Linked DNA regions of Homo sapiens: all the other regions are linked to region 2. Evidence: fine-mapped expression QTL. A gene starts in region 2. Each other region holds a variant in brackets. All regions are shown on one strand. Distances are from middle to middle. Region 1 overlaps GLIS3 (GLIS family zinc finger 3). Region 2 holds the start of GLIS3 (GLIS family zinc finger 3). Region 3 overlaps GLIS3 (GLIS family zinc finger 3).

Region 1 (8,185 bases), 210 kb after region 2:
TTACTAATCTGGTAGGTAAGAAATGTTTGTCTTCTTAATAATTTGATGACCCAGCTTGTTTTCCTCAGTTCCTCTCGTTCCTGCTTTCCTCTTCTCTTCCATGTTCCACTCCCATCTCTTTCTGTCTATCATCAGGTATTTTTGGTTGAGATTTTCACGTGCTTAAAGCCATTGATTGGGAAGCATCCACGGAACAGATGATCTGGAAGAACCCAGAGTTCAGATATTTGCAGGAAACTGAATTCAACGAGGATGATGAAAAAAAGCAATGAATCACTCTTAAGAACTAGACAGCAGCAAATTATCGATTCAATACACAGTTGACCTACAATTCCACAGTTTCTGAGATGAGGTATTATAAGGTGAGACCTCAGGGTTACTGAAGTATTGATAAGGCCTTCTGGTCAACTTGTCTTGTCATAGCCAAAGAATACATGTTTGGCCTTAAATGGCCTAAAATTTAAAAATATATATATAGATATTTAGCAGCATGAAATCCAGCACACATAACTGCAATCTAGAAGAGTTGCAGATACACAAATCAAACTCAGCCAGTGGGTTAGCAAGGAAGCTGAAGGTGCCTTGTCCTGTGATAAGCTTCCTCAAGACCAGTATCCAGTCTTCTGAGTATTTATAGCCCCTTATCATACCACTAGAAGGCCAAGCCCATAATAAGCATTTGCTCCTTGCCAGTTTAAAATGTGCTAGAAAACCAAGTGACTTTGGATTTAGGGCCAGCACCCTGAGTTATTTTTAAGCCTTCAGGCCACCCTTCTGTTCAGGCTTTGGCTGAATAGCCCCTGCCAACCCGAGGGAGGAAGTACCGAGTCTCTGAGTCTGCTCTCCTCTGTCTTCCACATGCTTTGGTTCTTCCCTTGTGCACGCTTTGCAAGAGGGGGCCTTACTCAGTGCAAACACTGGGGGCAAAGTGACTGGCTCTTTTCAGTATTTTTCCAGCAGGAACATTCATTCATTATATTAACTTTTTTTTTTTTTTCCAGGCAGCATAGCATAGTGATTAAGAGCGTGGACTCTGGAGCCAGACTGCCTGGATTTAAATCATGACTCTGCCACTTACAGGCTGTGAGGCCAGCATGTTACTTTTCCACTTAGTACCTCATTTTTCTCATCTGTAAATGAGGATAATTAAATATACATGCAGGCATGTGCCACATAACAACATGTTGGTCAAAGAGTGGCTATGTACACATACAACAGTGGCCCCATAAGATTATAAAGGAGCTGAAAAATTCCTATCACCTACTGACGTCATTGCTAATGTCACATCATGGAGCAATTCATTATTCACGTGCATGGGGGTGATTCTGGTGTGAACAAACCTATGTCACTGCCAGTTGTATAAAAATAAAGCACATATAGTTATGTACAGCACATAATACTTGATAATAAAAATCTGTGTTGCTGTTTTATGTATTTACTATACTATACGTTTTATTATTATTTTAGAGTGCTTTCCTTCTGTTTATAAAAGAAAGTTAATAAAACAGCCTCAGGTTGCTCCGTCAAGAGGTATTTCAAAAGAAAGCATTGTTATTATGGGAGATGACAGCTCCAGGCTTGTTACTGCCCCTGAAGACCCTCCAGTGGGATGAGATGTGGAGGTGGAAGACAGTGATATTGATGATCATGACCCTGTGTAGGCCTAGGATAATGTGTGTATTCATGTCTTACTTTTCAACAAAAAATTTAAAAAGTTTAAAAAAATTTTTAAAAGCTTATGCAATAAGGAAATAAAGAAAGGAAATATTGTGGTGCAGCTGTACAGTGTGTTTGTGTTGTAAACTGAGTGCTTTTACAGAAGAATCAAACAAAAAATAAAGTTTATTGGGAGGCTGAGGCAGGCGGATCACGAGCTCAGGAGATCGAGACCATCCTGGTTAACATGGTGAAACCCTGTCTCTACTAAAAATACAAAAAAATGAGCCAGGCATGGTGGTGGGCGCCTGTAGTCCCAGCTACTCGGGAGGCTGAGACAGGAGAATGGTGTGAACCCAGGAGGCGAGGCTTGCAGTGAGCCGAGACTGCGCCACTCCACTCCAGTCTGAGCAACAGAGCGAGACTCTGTCTCAAAAAAAAAAAAAAAAATTGTAAAACAGTTACAGTAAGATAAATTTATTATTAAAGAAAGAAAAATTTTTAATAGATTTAGTGTAGCCTAAGTGTACAGTATTTGTAAAGTCTACAGTTGTGTACAGGAATGTCCTAGGGTCTCACGTTTCTCAGCACTCACTCACCCAGAACAACTTCCAGTCCCACAGACTCCATTCCTAGTAAGTGCTCTATACAAGTGTATCATTTTTTTTTATCTTTTATATGGTATTTTTACTGTACCTTTTCTGTGTTTGGATACCATACCATAGTATGTTTGGATATGTTTAGATACACAGATACTTACTGTATTATTCTGTTTCTCACGCTGCTATAAAGAACTGCCCGAGACTGGGTAATTTATAAAGAAGAGGGGTTCCGCAGGGCTGGGGAAGCCTCAGGAAACTGACAATCATGGCAGAAGGGAAAGCAAACACATCCTCCTTCACATGGTGGCAGGAAGGAGAAGTGAGAGTCGAGCGAAGGGGGATGCTCGCCATACGTACACTCTGCTGTTTATACAACAAAATCACCTAACACATTTCTCAGAACATATTCTTGTCATTAAGCGACACATGACTGCACATTCATACTTATGTGGTTGTGTGTGTGTGTGTTTGTGTGCACGTGTGCGTGTAGTCTAATGAAGTGCCTGACTTATGGTAAGTGATCTGTGTTTATTATTATTGTTTTTATTTTTATTTCCACTAAGGATAAATGGAAAATGCTTACCGTGTACCAATCTTACAAACGTTTAATTATTTTTTTAACTTAATTTTTTTTGAGACGGGGTTTCACTCTGTTGCCCAGGCTGGAGTGTGATGATCTGATCATGACCCACTTCAGCCTCGAACTCCCAGGCTCAAGAGATCCTCCCACCTCAGACCCCCAAGTAGCTGGGACTACAGATGTACACCACCACGTCTGGCTAATTTTTAACATTTTAAAAATTATTTTTGTAGAGATGGGGTCTCACTATGTTTACCAGGCTGGTCTCCACCTCCTGGACTCAAGCCATCTTCCCACCCAAGACTCCCAAAATGTTGGGATTACAGGCATGAGCCACCATGCCCAGCCTCAAACATTTTATACATACTAACTTTACTTGCAACAACTTAATGGATATCATCATCCCCCTTTTTATATATGGACACTAAGGCACAAAGAGGTTAAATACATTGCTCAAGGAACTTACCTAAGTTAGAAAATGGCTGAGCCAGGGTTTGCAGTCAGATTCTAGAACCTGCAGTTGTAACGACTGTGCTATGCATGAAACTTCTCTTGCAGAATGTACAGTCTAGTGACTCCAGCATACCAGCAATAGTAATAGTCACAACCTCAGCAGTAGCAGTT[G/A]ACAGAGGGTGTGTTTTGTGCTATGTTTACCACTTCACGTGCTTAAGCTTATCTCTTCTTCCCTGGGCCTTATGAGGGAGCTACTACTAGCGGAAACTAAGGAACACTGGATGCCGTGGCCACCAAGTGGTGGAGCCATAATTTCAGCCTAAACCTGTCTGATTCCAGTGTCCTTGCCCTGAATGCCACCCTGAGCGTTTCCAGTTGGGATTCTGTGTCTTGGACCAGGTGGTCCAACTGCTATGTGTTCAGTGGACTTGGAAGCTTTCCCTTTTCTTTCCGCCCTTAGCTTTGTCTCACTTGATTCTGCCTGGAGAGCCTCATTAATTTTTTTTTTTTTTTAAACTTTAAGTCCCAAAGAAGGCTAAACTACAGATTCTTTGTCACATCCTGGGTACTGTAACCAAGTCTTATTTTGTTTTTATTGAGCGTGAATCAGTTTTAGATCCTCGAGATGAATGAATTCAAGGGCTTTTCTTAAACTCAAATCAAATATATATTGAGCCAGGACCGCAGTTTGAATCTGTTGGGCTGTAGGCAGGAAGGCAGCACTAAGGAGAAATCTAGTGTTTCCCAAAAGATAATGAGGACAGTGGGCCTGTGTAGAAGGGAAGGGGCAATGCCAGTCACCTGTGTCACAACTCTGCCTAAAATGGGTTTTAGGGATGGGATCCACTTCTGGGACAAGTGCTTTGACAAAGCTGGTATGGGAATAGGAATCATACCCCCTGCAGTCCCTGTGAGCCCAGGCAGGACAACCCACTGACACAGGGCAGAAGGGAGCAAGCGAGGAGCAGAGTTCTGGACATTGCACCCCTCTGCCGTGGGCATGGCACACAGTGGGAGGCACCACTTTGTCTGAACAAAAATAAATACTCCTCTTTATGATCACCCGGAAATGTGGATTTTTCCCTTTGTCACTGTCTAATTAGTGGAGACACCTGAGAATTCAATTTTTTATGGGTTTTTGTTGTTGTTTTTGTCAGGGTCTTGTTTGTTGCCCAGGCTAGAATGCAGTGGCATGATCGTAGCTCACCATAGCCTCAAACTCCTGGACTCAAGCGATCCTCCCACCTCAGCCTCCCAAGTAGCTGAGATTACATGTATACACCACCATGCCTGGCTAATTAAAAAACAAAAATTGTAGAGATGGGGTTTGCCCAGGCTGGTTTCAAACTCCTGGCCTCAAGAGATCCTCCTGCTTGGGTCTCCCAAAGCGCTGGGATTACAGGTGTGAGCCACTACACATGGCCAATTTTTTATGTTTTTAACATTTTGGCAATGTTCTTCATTAATAATTCCTCAGCAATTTTATAATAATAATATATTTTCCTTTTTTCATATTTATGTTGATTGAATTTGTAAGGTCGTGTATGTAAATACACAGTTTTTTATTAACATACACACACATATACATTTTCTCTTAAAACGTTTGTAAAGGAAAAAAAAATGTTATCCACTCTTCAAGATGAGACTGTTTAGACATCTTCATTTTTCAGTTTTGAGATATACCAACATTAAACAGCAATTTTCAGAGGTGATACGTGTCTTGTTAGTACTGTTCCATTTATACAATGGATCAGTGCATCCCCACAAAACCTGAGTTTAAACTTCCACACTGCAGTTGAGACAGACATGAATATTTGGATTATTAAGAAACATAAAAAACTAGGCCACATCAAAATATTTGGGACTAGTTCATAAAAAATAAAAGTAAAGCAAACATTTACAGTTTGTTTTAAAGCAAGTTGCTGGGGAAAGTCTTTCTACCAGCTTTGTTTTAACACAGCTCATGGATATAGATGTTTCTGTCAAAATTAAGTCATTGGTAACTCCATCTGAGGAGCTGTCTATTCCATTTTTTTCTCGAGGAATGAAGACAGGCCTTTTGGGGTGAAGCCCTTTGGACTGGCATCCTGCCATGTAGGATTTTGGCTGTGAAGTATCTCAACTTTTGAAAAGAAATATCCATTTTGGCCTTGGCTTTAAAATGTGGGACTTCATAAATGTGAAACTACATAATTTTATTTCCGTCATAGTAAAAGGCACTAAAATTTACAAGGAATGCCACGCTAAACTGTAGGTTCCTTGAGGAGAAGGGACAAGGTCACATTTATTGCTTTACTCTCTGGCATTAGGAATACATCCAATATATAGTTGGTGCTCAGTAAATATTTATTGAAGTGAATTCCATCTACAATGGGGATTAGCCAGTTTTAAGAAATAAGAAGATAATTTTCCTGTGAATTTTGACTTGTAATCTTTCAAAGTTGGTTTAAGGACAGACACAAGATTAAATCACTTAGGACCAATTTAAGATAAGGAAAATAAGGGAGGATTGTACTTCTGTTGGCTGTCATTCATCTCTCATTTCAGTGGGCACTAATCAAATGAGAACATTTATTTTTCCAACCTTTCTCTCTTCTTTAATTATTGGATTCACCAAATAATTATTAGCCTAAGCATATGTTTTATGCCAAGGATTGGGCTAGACCCACAGGACTGCAAAGGTAAATAAAAACCAATGCCTTCTCCCAAAAGGAGGCAGGTCGGTAAATTAAATTAAGTGTGGCAGGTGCCCCGATAGAAGGATTGAGGTACATGATACTAATCTCTCTTTTTTCATCTCCTTTCTTTCCCTTCTTCTTTATTCTTTCTCCCTTTCAGAAGTTGAATTCTTGTAGGTTATGTTGGGGTTGAAGACAAACCCAGATCTGCCATGGCTATCCTCACACCTTGTCTAGCCAGTGAGCTGAGTTCGACTATGGCAAAGGCATTGAGGAGTTGTTAGTGCATGAATGACATGTGGAGTCTGTCTAGGGAAGTCTAAAGTTCATTGGGGGCCAATCCATGTACATAACTAACCATAATGCGAGATGGACAATAGAAGTGAGGTAACCAAGGTATGGATAAATTCCTGTGTTGAGGGGCCAAAGAGAATAATTCCTTGTGGCTGTGAGTGGGAAGAAACTGAAGGCTTCATGGAGGAAGCGGTCAGGCCTGGACTGTGTAGCAGGATTGGTACCTTACCCTTAGTTCATGTAGGAATATGAATACTAAAAATTTCAGTATTAGGTACTCAATGAATATTTTTTCACCGATATGAATTTTATGATGATGTACCACCTTTCCCCCTTAAATCTGTTGTTTTTTAACTTTTCATGTGGGTGTTAATACAACTCTATTTTTAAGCTCTATGAGGCCAGAGCCCACATCCTGTACTTTTTGCTTTTCTCCATATCATGGGGTTTTCAAACTGTTCCCTGGCACTAAAGACTCTAGTTGGGGTATTTTCACTGGAGGAGGGAGGCCTTAGATCTATCAGGAAATTGCCGATTGTTTTCCTGTTTTGTTTATGAGGCTATCATTTCAGAATCCATTTTCCTTTTCTTCTTTCATCTCAAAACTTTTTTCATCTTCACTCAGTAGTAGCTCTGTACAGCTTTGGATGTGCATCTATTTAAGGCTCTCACTTGAAAGTATGTTTTGCCGCAAGTGGAGAAGGAATAATAAATGTTTATCCATGGCCTAAATAAGGGATGAAAAAACAGCTGATACATTTTTATAGCTGTTCTACCTCTGTACTCATCTGACCATAATCACCTAGTATTTATTATTATTACTTATTAGTAATATTTTAGGTTTTGTCTTCTTTGCCTCCACTTCACATGATTTATTGGCTGCAAACAAATATAGTTATTCCTTTTATTTTCATTTCAGACTTTGCCATGTTTTCAGGGCCAGTCCAACTCAGTTAAACAATTACAAGTTGACTGCCACATGTACACATAGCACTAAACTAGGATTTTGTAGAGGATGCAGAGGTGAAGAGTAGGGAGCCTCTGCCGTCTACGGGTTCAAGGTCCAATGTGGAGGACATGTCTCTAAATCATGCCGTTATCAGTTAGACTGTGGAGAATGCTACAACTGAAGAACAGCAAGGCTCTGTGGGACTTGAGGGGAAAAAGAGATTAATCTCCACAGGGGTTATTCAAGTTCATGGCTCTCTCTAGTTAGTGAAGTTGTTCATGATGCTGAAAGTCCCTCCTGTGCACAGTGCCCGGCACATGCTGTAGAGCCTGCTCAGCACTGTTTTGACAAGTGGTACATTTACATGGTAAAAAAATCTAAAACTCTCCAAAAGGACATACAGTGGAAAGTCCGTCTCTTAACACATTCCGTCATCCTTCCTCTCTGGAGACACATGCTTTTCACAATTTCCTGTGTCTGACTGATTGTTAAAGATTTGTTTTCTGGAAGATCCTTTTTCAATTTTATTGAATTCACCCCAATGTAATAAACATTCTGCATATGTGCCAGGTGCTGTGTTAGGTCGTGGGAATACCACGAATAGGATCCTGGTCTCTGAGAGCTCACAGTATGATATACATAAAGTTATGGCTTGGAATATGACATATTCAGCGATGTGATGGAGATATGGGGAAGTGCTGTGATAACTCAGAGGAGGGAATGAATGACTCATTGCCCCAGGGTGGGGTTGGGGAAGTTTCATAGAGGTCATGATTCTTCAGTTGGGACTTGGGGGATGAGGATTTCACTAGACTGAGGTGGAGACAAGTAAATTACATGCCAAAAGAGTGATATGTTCAAAGACATAGAATACTGAAAATACATGTCTGAGTAGGGTATGTGCAGTGGTAGTTACATCTGGTGGTTGAGGTCAAATTGTGAGAGACATTGAATTTCTGATCCTGTGAAGTTT
Region 2 (8,185 bases):
AGGAATCTGATCATAGTTCTTTGCAAGTTTGTAAGTGGTTTACTGTCAGAGCACTCAGGGTGACTCAAATAGCAGTTCTGAAGTTTTGCTGTCAGGATGTTCCTTCGGGAGAGTTTCATTGCTGTGAGACAGTGGATGTTCCTATTTTGTACTCTAGCTTTGAGTGAGCTGCTTGCTATGCAGGACTTATGCCTTCTGTGCCCCTTTTGATGCTGATTCCTATACTTGAAATGGTCTCCTTTGCTTATCACTTCTCTACTCATTCTTTGAAGTCCAGCTCAAACAGCCAAGCTACTCCATGTCACATTGCAGGAAATTATTCCTGCCTCCTCCACACTCCCTACAAACTTCATTGTGCTCATCTAACACTGACCACAAGATGCTTTGCACTTTATACACCTGCAATATGTTTTATACACATTCAAAGAGCATGCACAATTATTCTGTAGTACAGTAATGTTGATTGAACTTGGGGCTTCTAAACTGGCATACTTGGCTCTGTCTCTGACTCTCTTTAACTGTTTACTGAGCTTCAACTTCTTTGCTTCTAAGTAGGAGATTATTCATAGCCACATCATACATTTGATTTGAGAATTAGATGAGGTAATATATGCAAAGAGTCCCCATTTCTTGAGGGTTTGCTACAACTAAGACACTGGGCAAAAAGTTTTCTGTAATATCCTCCCATATACAATGCCTACAAGTGTTAATTCCTTTAGTCCCAATACTTGGACAGAGTGTGTACTCACTGAATATTTCTCTGATGAATGAGAACTGGACTGGAGCTGGCAGCAGGGGCCTGTCTGCTGAGTCAGCTGCCCTGAGTCAGCGGTTGAGGCACATACAACACTGGTCTCTAGAGAGGGAAGATACTGACTGGGCTGCAGTTCCCACCTATCTGGCTGAAGGGCTGCCAGAGTATGATTCCTAAGCACGATGGAGAGCTCATGGGTAAGGGAGAGTATCATTTTGGAACTACATGATTTCCTTTCTCACTGTCTCTCATTACCACCCTCCCTCACCCCTGCTGACCAATTCAGCCCAGAAGAGGTACAGATCTCATTCTGAGTCATTCCAGGGTTGTACTGGTACAAGAACAACTGCATTTTTACTATAACCCATGGAATATAAGAACATTGCAGATCTACATTCTTGGCCAGAAAAAAAAAAAAAGAAAAAAATTCAACCAAAGCACTATACCTCTTCAGTGGTAAATATTTTAGGAATGTTAGAGGTTCATGAAAATCACACCTAAATAAAATGACATTCCCACTCTTGGGCTCTTATAAATGAAGAGATTTTGGGGATCTCCAGGTTGATGACTCCTAACTTTCCCAGTGTTTTTTTCCATGAGCTATTGATTAAAGTTGGGTGTAGCACTATATTTTTTTCTCTTCCAGCTAAGCTGTTCCCATCATTTGGGAAGTTTTAGAAGCTTCTGCAAGCCCCTAGGATACCATTCTATGCATCAAAACCATTGTATTTAAAATGATATTTGAGGGACATTGGAAAGGTTTTTTGCAGTCTCCACCCAGGCTTGTCTTGCTCCTGGGAAGCAGTTGTACAGCACAAGAATCTGATGAACAGAAGTTCCCATGATGCATTGAAGGGTTAGTGTTGCCATCTTGCTCTGTTCCTTAAGGCTGGAGTTAATGAGGAAGAGTTTTTATGTGAATGTCAGGCATGTTGCAATAACTAGCCACAATGGAATAGTCATGGCAATTTCCACCACTTGGTTTCTTTGTTTTTGTGATGTTGCTGCATGCTTCATTTTATGAGTATTTTCTTTTCTTACGTGTGGTTGAGCCCATCTATTGCCATCTTGGGCTTGAATACTTGTATTTAAAAGAGATGAACAGAGAGAAACTGGAAAACTGACAGAATGACATATCCTGACCTCTTACTATTTTTCATCCCCTACTTCTGCTGACAAATATTCTGATGAGTTTGTGTCCCAAGGTGAAGGAAAAGAAAAGAAAAAGTACTGTGGAAACCAGGCTTCTTTTGGTTATGTTAATATCATGGATACAGACCAAGCCTAGTAGTATTCCCACTGAAATTAGATAAATGAAAACTGCCAATAGTCTTTTAGTTTTGGCTTTCTGGGGTAAGTCATTTGTGTCCTTGAGGACTTCTGTCTTGATCAAAGCATCTACTACCTGATTGCTAATTTATATTGGAGTGGTAACAGTAGAATAGAATATAAGGACTTGTGAAATTCTAAGTGTCTGGTGGCATCCTCACTCATTTCATTCATGATGGTGAATAATACTGTCAACTGCAGAAAGGCCTACCTGGAGGATATTGTGTGCATTACATACCTAGATTCCCAAGATGGAAGTCCTTGCATCTGTGGCAATACATGTGATGAACTACTAGGAGCAGACTTTCTTGTAACAACCTTTTGAGGGCTCTGGTCAACACAAGCAGAAGCGGTGGCGAGTCAGAGCTTAGGTGGGGTATGAGGCTGAGGATGTTGAATTCATAAGGATAAAGTGCCACTTTATAGACGTAACATACGCAGGGAATATACCTCCATTCTTAACAGCCTGTGTTCAGAATTTTATACCCTTCTAACACTTCCATCACCTTCCTCTCTTCCCTGCCTATACTTGGAAAGGATGCCAAAGCCTTCCTTAGTGCTTCACCTATCCAGTTTCGAAGCTGTCATGTGCATCCGATCCGATATTTCAAAGCAACCCTTTTGCCATTTTTCACTGTGTTATTCTCTCCGTATTACTACCGGATTTTTTTGGTTGTTTGTTTATTTTTTTATGACCTGACATCAAATCCTGTCTAAACACTAACACTTTTTCATGTTAAAATAAGTCAGTTTAACAAATAAGGCCAGGAAGAAGGCGAAGTGTCTCCCTGCTGTTACCCTGTTCTGGAGTTCCTCGACTTCTGGCGCACGGGGAGTGTGTGTGTGTGTGTGTGTGTGTGTGTGTGTGTGTGTGAATGCGTCAAGAGGGAGACACAAGCTCGGCCTTCGAATTGGCCAGCCTAGTGACCCGCGAGCCCGCCCCCACTCTTCCCCCTCCCCCTCCGGCGCTCACACTCAGGAAGCAGCTGGCTACAGGCCGGCCCTCGCGGCCGCACACACATCCACACTCCTCGCCCGGCTGCCTTCCTCCCTCCCTCTTCCCCCTTCCCCTCTCCCTGCAGCCGCGTCCACACTGCGCCGCCCGGGCAGCCCAGAGCGCGGCGCGCACGGGCACCGGCGGCGAGTGCCGCGGCCACTGCCCCTCCCGGGACCCCCTGTACGCCGTCCGCGCCGTCCAGGGTCACACCGGCGACGGAACCCGCCGGCAGCAATTAGCCAGCATCCCGGGGTCGGCCCCCAGAAGCATTCCCCGGCCCAGGACGAGGATGAACAGGACAGGCGAGGCACAAAGTCGCAACTGAACTTTTTAGAAACATTATTTGTGTGTGTATGTGTGTAGCAGGGGAGAATGAGCTGATGCCGAGGGTCCAGCCACCCCGCCTCTGCCTCCTCCTCCCCCTGCCGCCGCTGCCCTCGCAGACGCGCGCGCACACACGGCACTTGGGCCGGGTTTCCGCGCTCCGTCCCCCCGTTTGGATGGGGGTTTTCATTTCCGAAGGAGGCACAGCCCGCGGAGCGCTCTGAAGGGCTGGAGCCCCAAGTTACTCCTCGCCAGCGCCGGCCGCCCGCTGTCACTCGCGCTGGCCGGCCGGGGGAAGGGACCCGCACGCCGGGCTTTGTTGTGGAAATCCCGGTTACCTGGTAAGTGGATGCCATAGGAACTTTGCTCGCAGGCGAGAGACGAGGAGAAACCGGGCGCTTGAGAGTGTGGGGGAGTTAAAGCTCAGAGACGCAAACTAGGGATTACAAATAGTTTTCTACGCTGAGCCGGTGGCGTTCGCGCGGGTTTAAGGATACGCGCACCTCAACTCCCGGCGTCACAGGTCACTGAGAGACCTGCGCTGACTGAGACTGATAGCAACAATTAGGGTTCAAACCATGTTTCTGTCAGTGGCCTAAGAGCGCCCAGTGTAGAAGACAGATAACGGGGCTTTAAAGTTGCGCTAATTCGGAACAGTTTTTGTGTTTTCATTTCAAGTAGAGCGGGCAGAGGGGTACACAATCAGGGCACGTTACAGGACGCACGGGCATGGGGCGCACCACTCTGGAGTCCCCACTGAAGGGAAACTTTGGCGAAGTGGGAACTGATGGGGTGACGTGAGGTCTCTCGCGCACACGCGGGGCTGTAGTTGTCTTTTCAAGTTCCACGTGTTTGTGGAGTTTCACGAAGGCTGTTTTCCACGCCTGTGTCTCATCCAAGCCGGTGTCCCCATGATTGCGGGAGGTGGTCGGGCTGAGGGTACCTACACTCCTCGCGGGTACCGGCCCGGCGATCCGCAGCCGCCAGGTCTGGAACTATAACCTCCCACGCCGCCAGGACGCAGACACAGCCAGACACGAACCCTCCCCGCCGGGTTCGTCACCTCGCGTTTACATTTTTTATGGGGCCCGACAAAATGTCAGCACTGTTTGGAAAATGTCTCAGTCTCGGAGACGTTGTCCTGCGCGCGGCTCCAGTCCCTATAAATGACCCTGTGTGTATTTTGAAGTCGGCCCGGGTCGCTCTCTGGAAAGCGTGAGTGAGCCGCCGGCTCTCTCCTAGACACACACCTTGCCCCGAGCGACAGTTCCAAGTTACTCACTGGAGCTGACAAGTCACCTCGGGGACCGGGAAGTCACTCAAGTGTCTGGAAATCTTGGCCCTGGCTGATTTGTCATCCTATGGATGATTCAATTAGGTACCTGGCGGGAGAAACTTTGGGGAAGGGTTTCTGGCTCCGCGTTCGCGCCCTCCGACTTGCTGGAGGTGTTTGGGAGGCGAGAAGCGAAAGGAAACCACAGGGTGAGGACACTGGCTCGGCGGGGACCGGGGGGCCGGCGTGGGGGGACTGCGAGCCCGGCCGTGGCGCCCCCGGGCTACAGGCTCCGGCCAGGCCGGGCAGCGCGCGCAGGTCCCCGGCGCCCGGGCTTCCCAGCCGCAGCACCCTTTCGGCCCCCGACTCACTCAGGAGCGAGTTGCACAACAGGAAGCCGGCACTAGTTTGTTTTGTTGCGCTGCGTTCGCTCCCTCGCTCGCTCGCGCACGGGGCCGAGGGTTAGGGGCGGAGGCGGCGGGGGAGTGACGGGGTCGCAGCCGCGCGTACCCCGCCGGGCGCTGTCGCCTCCGCCTCCGGACCCGCCCCTAGCTCCGCGCCGAGGAATCTCCGACCCCGGCAGCGAAGCCAGTCCTATAGGGAACCGATAAGGGCCGCCCTCCTCCTGCCTTGTCCTACGCGCCTCTCCCCCGCTCCCGGCACCTCTCCCGACTTCTCCAGCCCTCCTCTTGGCAGGAGTGGTCTCGAGGACTGAGACCACTGCTCTGTGTGCCTCCTTGAGCCCCACGCTAGTTTGCCCCGGTATCCGCTTGGCCCTCATCTCTGGAGCATGTAAACCTGGGGAAGGGGTAGGGAGGTGCTTCCGGAATCACAGGGAGTAGGGTCCGTAGAGACAGGACTCGTGGAGTCGCGGCCCCGTTTCACAAAGAGGGTTGCTCTTGCACCCTCTCCCCGAGCCGGCAGAACCAACTTCCTCCAAGACTTCAGCATCTCCCGAGAGTTGGGGCCCCAGGGCCCTGGAGTTTGTGAGAAGAGGGAAGTTCTGCAGCTCCCCCCAGTGGACCAGGTCCCTTTAGTATGGGGCCGGGAATCTCGAGGAGAGACTATTAAAGCTAGAGTGGACCCTGGCTTCACCTGATGAGGAAACCGAGCCCCAGAGACGTTAGAGGTTTTGCCCAAGGCCTCACAGCCAGTTGTCGCAGACCCTTAAAGTTCTCAGGTCCCGGTTAAGAGAGCATTTCTTGGCTCGAAGATGACCTCAAGACAAATGCAAAGTCTGGTTCTGTCCCCTCTGAAAGCTTTGATGAGTCATGATTTCTGCCTTGGGAGTAAGCCAGACTTCTGTTTCACCCTCTGTCTTGTTCCTCACTGGACCTCCCTTTTTAGACTAAACTTTTTTTTTTTTTTGGGTACAAAATCGACTTGTGTTGGTTTAAACCTTCCTACTTCTTCTCTTTTATCTCCTCCTAGTTTGTTTCCGCTGGTTCTGTGTGAAGCAGGTGCAACCTGTAAAGGTTTGCAGAAAAAGAATCCGCCACGATGAAGGTCGTTCTGAGAAAGTTTGAAGCAATTTAGACAGGAGAGTGTTAGATTATATGCATTTTTTTTTTTTTTTTTTTTTTTTGCAATTGAGAACAAGCTGAGGTGTAAGGATCATCTATAACCGTACTGCAGTTTTCATTTATTTTCACTGGTCATCTGCGCAGCCAGACTAGCTCTGAGGCTACCTTTGAAAGGAAGTGTAGGGGACATTTTTTTTTCGCTATTTTCAAAACACCTGTCCTTATTGGTAGTTTGTAATTGCTTTCTTTTCTTGCCCAGAAGACTCAGTAATCCTTGAGTATGAGTAGATCAATTTAAGTGCTGCTGTTAACTTCTCCCCTTGGTTCACCTTAGGCCAGTTTGGGGACAGCATCGTTGATCCCCTGATTCCACTGAAGTTCCTTAGTAGGCAGGTTATCAGAGGTTGAATACCTAGGGTTTGTTGGTTTGCTTGGAAGAAGTGATCATCACTTCAAATAAGAAAGGCAATCTTTATTGGGGTGGTGGATGAACTCCAAGGTCCACCTAGTGGGTGAATTTCCTACTGAGCTAAAATAGCCTGGGTAGGAGAGGTTAAATAATACCCAGAAAACGTTTTGTATTAGCCCTGCCTTCATTTATGCAGGAGAAAGTGGTCCTTCTGCCATTCCAGAAGAGAGCTCAGTGTTCTCGGTCTTTTTTTTTTTTTTTTTTCCTCTGACTGTTCTTTCCTGCTAGTAAATTAAGCCTGAGGACATTCATTCTTTCCACTGTTGTCTCTCTCATATTATAATTATTGATCTTTGGAGTTGGAGTGTTAATTTACTCTTCTCCCAGATTATAGAATACATACTTCTTGAAGGAGATAACTCAGAGTGGCGTCACATGCACATTTCTCATCTCTGGAGAAGTCATTTTCTGTGTTTCTGTGATTATTTTCTGTAGAGGGCATTATATTGTAAATAAGGTGGAAATACAGGACTTAACTGTTTTACTTTTCCCTAAGTTTGGTTGGTTCATAGACTATCAGGACTGGGGAAAAAAGGCACATAGGAAATCTGTGTGATAAAAAAAAAACTTGTTGCCATTCTCATTCAAGGAAGATGACACATAACAAAACCTTTGAAATGACATTGATACATAGTTTGATTAAAAGATGTCCAAGTCCCCAGTTTTTGTAGTTTCCCACTTACTTTAGGCAGAGTTGACACAAAAGCCAAATTTTCTATTGAGATGAAATATCCTTACGGAAAAGCACACTTATCTTGAGCTCGATGCATTTTTTTGCAAGTGGAACACACCCACATAACTAGTCTCCAGATCAAGAAACAGAGCATTATCAACACACCAGAAACATCTCTCACACTCCATTCTAGTTACCACCTCTGCCTAAGGTAACCGTTGCCCTGGTTTCTAACAGATATATTAGTTTTGTCTGGTTTTTTTAAAAAAAATCTTGTGTAAATGGAATAATTCAATATGCACTCTTGGGTCTGGCTTCTTTCGCTCAACACAACAACCTTTTATTAGGTCAAATAATTTGGACTCCCCCTTTAAAGATGATGGAAACAGTCTGGCTTGCAGAAATTAGTGAGGCATTACTTAATATGATAGAATTAAGGAAAAACACTAACCAAACTGAAGCCATATTTATATTCTGATGACAGTCTGGTTAGGGAGACCAAACAGACACAAGTGAAATGTCTAATGTGACACCAGTGTAGGAAGCAGGAAAATTCAGAGGCGTTCCTTCCACTAAGGCAACCCAGAGTGTATTTCACCGTCCTTTCGTGAGGGCCAGCAACCCCCATAATAAAAAAAAAAGTAAGTGCCTGGTTTCAGTATTGAACTGTTCATTTGCAACTTTTAGCTGGGATTTTTCATTGTTCACCAGTAGGCCAAGATAAAGGCAAGAATAACATGCCTACCCAGAAGAATGGAATAGAATTTCTGTGCCACTTTTTCCTAGTAGAGAAAGGAAAAGACTAGGAAACATGCAACTGTAATTAAACTGGTTCCATAAGCC
Region 3 (8,185 bases), 450 kb after region 2:
TATTTTAATAACATTTGAAATGAGCACAGTCCCAGGGGGCTCCCTCCCAGAGGTGCACATCCAGCCTTGCGTGGCCTTCAGCTCATGGCAGATCACACGCCTTCCTGTGCACTGGGCCCTGCTATCACTTGTTGTTTCAGTACCTGTAAGCCAGCCTTTCCAGTCTATTTTGTGTGATTTTTAATAACCACCCAGGAGCCTATAGCCACACTGAACTGCCTGCCTAAATTTCCTCTTGATATTTTATTACTGCTGTAATTAGAAGGTATCAAAGATTTTCAGTGGTCTGACCCAATTTTAGATTTCTCAAAGACCTTATTTTTAATACACATTTGTGCAGAGGACAAGATTTTTCGGGGTTCATTTATCACGTTACAGCAACCGCACCAACAACCCCAGTGTGCAGTTTACTCTTCTCTCATGACAAGATGTCTTTTTTTTTTTTGAGATGGAGTCTCACTCTGTCACCCAGGCTGGGGTGCAGTGGCGCAATCTATGTTCACTGCAACCTCTGCCTCCTGGGTTCCAGCTATTCTCCTGCCTCAGCCTCCTGAGTAGCTGGGACTATAGACACATACCACCATGCCTGGCTAATTTTTTGTATTTTTAGTAGAGACGGGGTTTCACCATGTGGGCCAGACTGGTCTTGAACTTCTGACCTCAAGTGATCCACCCGCCCCAGCCTCCCAAAGTGCTGGGATTACAGGCATGAGCCACCGCCCTTAGCCTTCTCTCATGACAAGACGTCTAACAGGAAACAGTGCAAGGTGGAGAAGGAGCCTCACAGAGTCAGCAGTGCCCATGCCTCCTCCCAACTTTGTGCTTTGTCATTGTTAACAGGTGGCTTCCATCCTCCTGGTCACAGCATGAATGCTGATATTCTACACATCTTGTCCCAGTTTCAGGCAGAGACGAGGGTGAAGAGTAAAGGACAAGCGTACTCTTAGTCACAAGGCAAAGGGGTCAGGGAAGATGGATATTTTAGCGCATTGCCATACTTAACAAAACGGAGATTCCGTTCACAGTTTTTACTGGATAGGCACACCGGAGGGGCTGCCAAACACTCTAGGATGGTTTTCTAATCTGTAAAATGGGACTAATCACAGACAGATTCATTCATATCCTTCCTTGGAAGTCGGGGTAGACTACCCCATGTTTTCCCATCTCTTCCATTCTCTTAGGTTTCCGTACTTTCCACTGTGTGCTCTTATTTTGCATCCCTCTGGAGTTTCCAGTTGCCAACACAGAGATTTCTGTCATCCATGTACCACTTACTAGATTTCGTTAGGAAAACACCATGAAGCTACCTCCTCAGCCTGGGCTGTTTGAAATCAGTGCAGCAGCAGTGGGAAGGGGGCGCCCTCCCTCTGTTGTTCACGGCTCCTGTGGTTCCTGAGCTGTCTTTCCCATGATTTAAAGCATGCCCTGCCTGCAGGCTTCCTAAAGCAGGCCAGTCAGCTCCCAGACAATGGTGGCATTTTCTTACCTCAGTCTGGAGCTGTAAGCTTGTCAGTCCAGTTCAAATTGACTGCAACAAGAAACAAAGGGTTTCCAGCCACCAACAGGACTCCAAGAACAAAACACATTGTAAATGGCTTGTCCCACCAAAGAGCCAAAGCATCTTTCAAACTGTAGAAATATCAGAGCATTGATATTTAAATGGCAGCGAGGTGGCAAGTACAAGTTTAGCTAACTTCTTCCTCAGTTGGCTGTTTACTCACAGTGATTGTGCAATGGTACTTTCCAGCAAGATGCCTATGGGCTGTAGCCATGACTGATTTCGCTGCTGCCAATTTATAGTGTTAAATATTTAAAGGTTATTTTTATTTTTATTTTATTTATTTATTTTTTGAGACAGAGTTTCGCTCTTGTCGTCCAGGCTGGAGTGCAGTGGGGCGATCTCGGCTCACGGCAACCTCCGCCTCCTGGATTCAAGCGATTCTCCTGCCTCAGCCTCCAGAGTAGCTGGGATTACAGGCATGCGCCACCACGCCCAGCTAATTTTTTGTATTTTTAGTAGAGACGGGGTTTCACCATGTTGGCCAGGCTGCTCTTGAACTCCCGAGCCCAGGTGATCCACTTGCCTTGGCCTCCCAAAGTGCTGGGATTACAGGCATGAGCCACCATGCCCGGCCTAGAGGTTGTTTTTAAAGGCTGATTTTAAAGACAGTAAACACTCCCACAGAAAATTTCATCATAACTGCATATATGAGGTTATGAAATAATAAAGCAGTAAGTCAAGAAATTGTATTGCTTAGAACTTAAGCATTGTGTCACATCTTGAAATCCCAGAAAGATAAATATAATTGATTATAAATCAACATTGTAATAGATTTCATGGAGAAAGTTGTGACATATTCACAAAAGAAATGAGCCGATGAGTGAACTTCATGTTATTCTGATGTTATCATCAGCAGTCATAATCAGGAATAATTTTCCATATCAGCCATGATGTTATTAACGCTTACACAGTACCAGGGATTGATGATTAGATTTGGAGAAGTCCTTAATTACTCTCATATACTTAATTACTACAAAATTACCCCAAGAACAGTTTTACATAAGTAGTACTTGAGAAATTCAGACTGTGTTCTAATTCTAAAAAACAAAAGTTAATTTTAGGTGTATATGCAGAGTGCAGTAAGCATTTCAACATGCTGAGTTTTGTGGAAGGGGTGTGAGATGGTCATGTGAACCAGAAAAGGTGTTGGAATGATTGATTATGGAAATGACTGAACTGTGAATAATCTACATATATAACTAAGCATCTGCACACACAAGCATGAGTGCATGTGCACCCACACAGATTAAACTCACCATATTAATGTGCTATGTTTGATGAATATGAGTATTAAATGATTGAATCAACTATTGCTAAATTGTAAGTCTCAGGACAGGGACTACATTGTCCCACAATATTCTGCACACTGTAAGTGCTTAATAACTGCTCATTAAATAAATACGAATGAACAGAAAGAAAAGACAAGAATAAAGGGATTTTTGCTTATGGCTTCTTAGACTGATTGGCAGAGCCAGTCCTTGGCAAAATTGTGACTTACAGACAAGTTTATCTGGGCCCCTCTTTTCTCTGGGCACTTCCTGCCTGTTTCTCTGCCCCCTCTTTATTTTATTTTTTTTTATTTATGTATTTATTTAATTTTATTTTTTCTGAAACAGAGTCTCATTCTGTCGCCCAGGCTGGAGTACAGAGGCGCGATCTCGGCTCACTGCAACCTCTGCCTCCCGGGCTCAAGTGATTCTCCTGCTTCAGCCTCCCGAGTACCTGAGATTACAGGCGCTTGCCACT[G/A]CACCTGGCTAATTTTTATATTTTTAGTAGAGACACCGTTTTGCCATGTTGGCCAGACTGGTCTTGAACTCCTGACTTCAGGTGACCCCCCTGCCTTAGCCTCCCAAAGTGCTGGGATTACAGCCATGAGCCACCTCGCCAGGCCCTGCCCCCATCTTTAAATACCCAGTGCTTACCATCTGCCTGAGACCTCTTCCCAGAGGAAATAGGATGAACTAACAATTCACTTACACATTGAGGTAAACTTAATATATTACTGCTTCTTGTCAGTATCTGCATAATAAAAGAGGATACTGAGACACAGCTGGTACTGAGTGTGTGGTAGTAAAGTTCTGGGCCATGGCAGCCCTGTGGAAGAGGGATTGTGAGGAATTCACAGTGCCCATAGATACCAGTCCTTTGCTTAAGAAAACATTTTCAGTTTGGAGGCAAGAAGATGGCAGTTACTAACTGGAATCCTATGAGCAGGTCATGCAATGCCCTGATTCTGAGGTTCTCAAGTTTAATAGATGATACTGACACCCCTGTTTCAGACTTGGCACAAGAATGAGAGAATGCCTGGACTACAGTAGATGCTCACGTCATTGCAGCTGTTATTGTTATTTTTCTACTGTGTATCAGATACCTGGTGCTCTGAGCAAGTCCAGAGCAACCTCCCAGGTGAGACAATGGAAGAGCTTAAGTACCATGCCCTAACTCATATACCTAGTGAGTATCAGAGGTGGTTTTATAAACCCAGTCTGACCCCAAAGCCCACAATCATACTTTGTGGTGGTGCCTACTGATACAGTATTATGGAAATTTTTAGTTACTTGGGAATTGCTTTTGCTTGAAAGTTAAGTACGGAACCATAAATATGCGGTTCCTTATAGGGTTAACATTCTGCTGTCAGTAGAGGTGCTGTGATTTGCAAGATGAAGTCATTTCCCACCAACTGCTTGACTGCATGTCTTTGGACACTGATAGCTGAAAAATCACTTTTTTCTGTGTCAGGCAGTGTAGTGAATGCCTGTCATGCCCTTGCTCACTAATCCTCCATAACAACACTATAAAGAAGGCATTGTTTACTCCCATTTTACAGGTGGGGAATCTAAATCACTGTGGTGCCCAGAAGTTTTAAATCTTGAAACAGTGGAGCTGGAAATTGCACCCAGGACCATCTGACTCCAGAGTTGTGCTTTTAGCCATTCTGCAATGCTGCTATTAAGCCTTTGATTGGGGGCTGTCCCCATGGGGAGGGGAGAGCTCTCTATCTAACGGCTCCCAATGGGATTACCCCACTGTGTGTGTGTGTGGGTGTGTGTGTGCGTGCGTGGGCATGCACGTGTGTATGTGTACATGCCATTATGCACTGTGCTTGCTCAAGTACGGGTATGCTGGGGGAAACTTTGGAAGCCTAATTACTATTATAAATCAACAAACCTGGGTTCCTGGGCTTTTAGCACAGTCCTTACATACAATTTACAAATTCTTACTGACTTTTTATATTATAAAAGAAAAATTTTCCTTGTTCAGTTTTTTAAAGTCCTTACAGTACTGAAACTTATAGTTTAAGTCCCCTCCCAGCCTTATGTTTGCCCCAATTCCACTGCTCAAAGGTAATGACTATTAAAAGATTGGCAAGTATTCTTTTAGACCTTTTTAAATGCTCATAGAAGGAGACATAACTGTGTCTATGTATATGCCCATATGCCCTGTTATAAAAATGGCCTCACGTTCTGCACCTCACATTCTATATTTTGTTTTATGACTTGATTTTTTTAAACTTAGTCAAATATATGCTTTTGCTTTCCAGGTCATTGCATATAGAGTCTTCTTAATTGTACAGCTCTCATAAGAATAGGTCATCATTTTTTAAATCATTCCCTTATTGATGAACATTTTTTTCATTTTTTACTTTTTCTAGCAATTCTGTTAAATCTCTTCATATATATATGCATGTTTATATAAACACTCCTGTACACACACACACACATATATATATATCTTTGCACAGTTTCTTAGGAAATATTTCTAAAAGAGAAAATGCTGGATTACTGAGTTGCACATTTTAAAGTTGGATAGGTATTGACACATACTCTTTTAGGAAGGCTATACTAATTTAGACTCTCATCAGCAGCACATCACAGGGCCCATTTCCTCACACTGAATGTTAGTATTTTGCCGATTTGTAAAGCAAAGATTGGTGACTTGCTTTAATTTTTCCTTTAGCTAGTAATGTAATTGAGCATCTTTTTATATTTTCATTGAACACTTAAAGACAGTATTAATAGTAACAGGGATTAAATAACAAGAGCTAGGACCTGGGTTTTTACATTATTTAAGTATCTTTCACCCTGTCAGTCAAGCTGTGTCATTTGCAGCAAGACAGTTTGTTTTCCTGATTGGAACTCAGAAATTTATTGATGAGAAAGAAATATCCAGAAAAATCCCTTATATCATTGACCATCATGACTTCGTCAGTCAACTTAAAAATGCCTATAGAAAGTGTTTAATTAATATTATTATAGACTTAGCACTTTTTCTTTCTTTGGGGGAAGTAATGACATCTTTCTAGAAGCAAATGTTCTTATACCTGAAACTCATGAAGTTGGCCTCTAATGAAGGGAACTCTTAAAATGAATTAATTGTTTTTCTGATAACACTATTCTAGGCGTTCCTCTGTTGGACTCTTCAGGGCTAAACATGTTAATGACAATCTATGTCTTATATTTCTTATATTTTAAACTGGAATTACCCTTATAAATATGGTAAACAATTGATGGTTTAGAAGAAGAAAAAAATGTAACAGCTATAGATGGAGCTTCCTTAAAATACATCAGTGAACATCTGGGTTGCTGGTAGCGAGGCCACTCTCTTCATAAAACAGAACAACAAAAACAATAGAATGCTAGAACTGGCTTGATCTGTCCCCATTCACAGCCTCTGAGCTCAGCAACATGTTACAAAACAATCCCAATTCCCTTAAAATTTCTCGTTGGTTTACGTAGAATTGTGAGTGCTCTTTCTGATTACAGGAATTTCCCCTCTCTAACCAGATTGTTCAGACTAAACTCTTTATGTCATTCTTTCGTGAGGTCTTTGAGAACTAGGCCTTACAAGATGTAAGTCTATTGAAATAAAAACATTTCGGTATTTTTTCTAGTTCACTTAAGTATGACTACTGAACCCTCCCTTCTTACGTTCATCACCAAACCCAACCTCATCTCACACATCCCAAAATAAGTTCTTAAATTTCCTTGCCATTGTGACAAAATCATTCAGGGAATCTGAATTGGCCAAATAATTACCCAAGGTTCTTTGCATCTGTGGATCTGGGCTGATGTGGTATTTTTGTCAATACCCATGAGGTCAGTGGCAGTACCTACATTCATATATCAATATATGTTTTATAAATCACTCTTACATACATAATTTTTATCAGTGCCTAGTAACTATGGGTATACAGAAATTGCCCAATAAATACTTGTTGGATGAATGCCTGACAAGATACAAAGGCAGGCTTCCTGGTAGCCAGATGGAGATAACAGAGATCCCGGGATCCAGTGATGTATGTCAGGTTTCCCAAATACAACATCCACTTTCCTATCTCAAAGCCACTTATATAGGTTTCCATACTCTTACTTCAAGCCCAAATGTAATCTTAACATAATGTTCCAGAGAGTAGGTTTTGGGGAAGCCTAACCATATATAATAGAGACTCAGCTATGAAGCAGAGGTTCGGAGGGAAAAATAATTGAGTCATTGGATCACTGGCAAGGATGAGGTAGGGGCCCACTTTTAGATTAGAGTGCTGGAAATTTGTGTAATAACAGACTCGGATTCGAAGAAGCAAAAAATCACCTAGTTAGTAAAGCGGATGTAATGTGGGAGTTTGGTTACAGCTGGACAACAGAAGTCTAAGCCACAAGATCAGTATGGGACCAACAGTGAGAACAAGACTTCTGAGTCACTCAAATTAGGTCCCATGATTTCACCTTGACCAAGAACTGACATGTGAGAGACAGGCATTGGGAGAGAGAGCCAGGCAAGTCATCTGGATCCATATCTACTGAGAGTGTAATTCAAGGCCCTTTTGGAACAATCATCACCACCTTATCCCCAAGAGCCCCATCTACCAGCAGAAAGGGCTGGGAGCCTGCCCAAGGGGAAGAGATGCCCATGGGAAGAACTCCCTCTCTCCATTTCAAATGAAATTAGAGCCGTTCTGTTGTTGTTTTAAATTGGTATTTCACTTGGAAAACTTTCAGATGTTTGTAAATCATCTAAAGATGTTCTCTTAGAGCCTCTCAAACTTTTAAGAAATACCTTATTAAATATACAGAATTCCAGGCACTTCTTCCAGAGTCGGCCGTAGAGCTCAGGAATGTGCATGTTCAACACACATGCCAAGGTGGAGCTGATGCCCCCCAACCCTGGTAAGAATCATTGGCCTAGACACCAAGTGTAGGGCTCAATGCCCTCTCACCGTGGCTCCCCAGTCGGAGATAACCCAAAGGAAGCAATTTGCCTGTGACTCAAGAGGTTAAGACTCTCTAGCTTCCTCCTCCCTTTATCTCTTGGGGAGGTCTTTTTGAGACAGAGTCTTGCTTTGACCCCCAGGCTAGACTGCAGTGGTGTGATCTAGGCTCACTGCAACCTCCACCTCCCAGGTTCAAGCAATTCTTCTGCGTCAGCCTGCCGAGTAGCTGGGATTACAGGCACCCACCACCATACCAGACTAATTTTTGTAGTTTTAGTAGAGACAGGGTTTCACCATCTTGGCCAGGCTGGTCTCAAACTCATGACCTCGTGATCCACCCATCTCGGCCTCCCAACATGCTGGGATTACAGATGTGAGCCACCGCACCCAGCTGGGGAAGTCTTTTAAAAAGCTAT

What was found. PIP is the estimated chance that this variant, and not a neighbour inherited with it, causes the effect. A credible set is the group of variants that fine-mapping cannot tell apart.
Region 1: its variant is the best candidate, but not a certain one, in a credible set for the expression of GLIS3 in adrenal gland (GTEx, PIP 0.73).
Region 3: its variant is the best candidate, but not a certain one, in a credible set for the expression of GLIS3 in thyroid (GTEx, PIP 0.52).

Annotation. Positions count from the first base shown.
Region 1 is chr9:4,086,074-4,094,258 of GRCh38, reverse strand. All of the region lies in intron 4 of GLIS3 (GLIS family zinc finger 3), which reads left to right. Among named protein-coding and RNA genes, the nearest start is that of GLIS3-AS1, 190 kb to the right of the region's middle. The variant G/A (reference allele first, on the strand shown) is at 3,463.
Region 2 is chr9:4,294,981-4,303,165 of GRCh38, reverse strand. GLIS3 (GLIS family zinc finger 3) reads left to right here and starts at 3,098. Exons shown (of 11, transcript NM_001042413.2): 1 at 3,098-3,745. It overlaps GLIS3-AS2 (GLIS3 antisense RNA 2), which reads right to left and starts at 3,865. Exons shown (of 4, transcript NR_186824.1): 1 at 3,743-3,865. RefSeq lists an enhancer at 5,803-6,097.
Region 3 is chr9:3,842,169-3,850,353 of GRCh38, reverse strand. All of the region lies in intron 9 of GLIS3 (GLIS family zinc finger 3), which reads left to right. Among named protein-coding and RNA genes, the nearest start is that of GLIS3-AS1, 52 kb to the left of the region's middle. The variant G/A (reference allele first, on the strand shown) is at 3,308.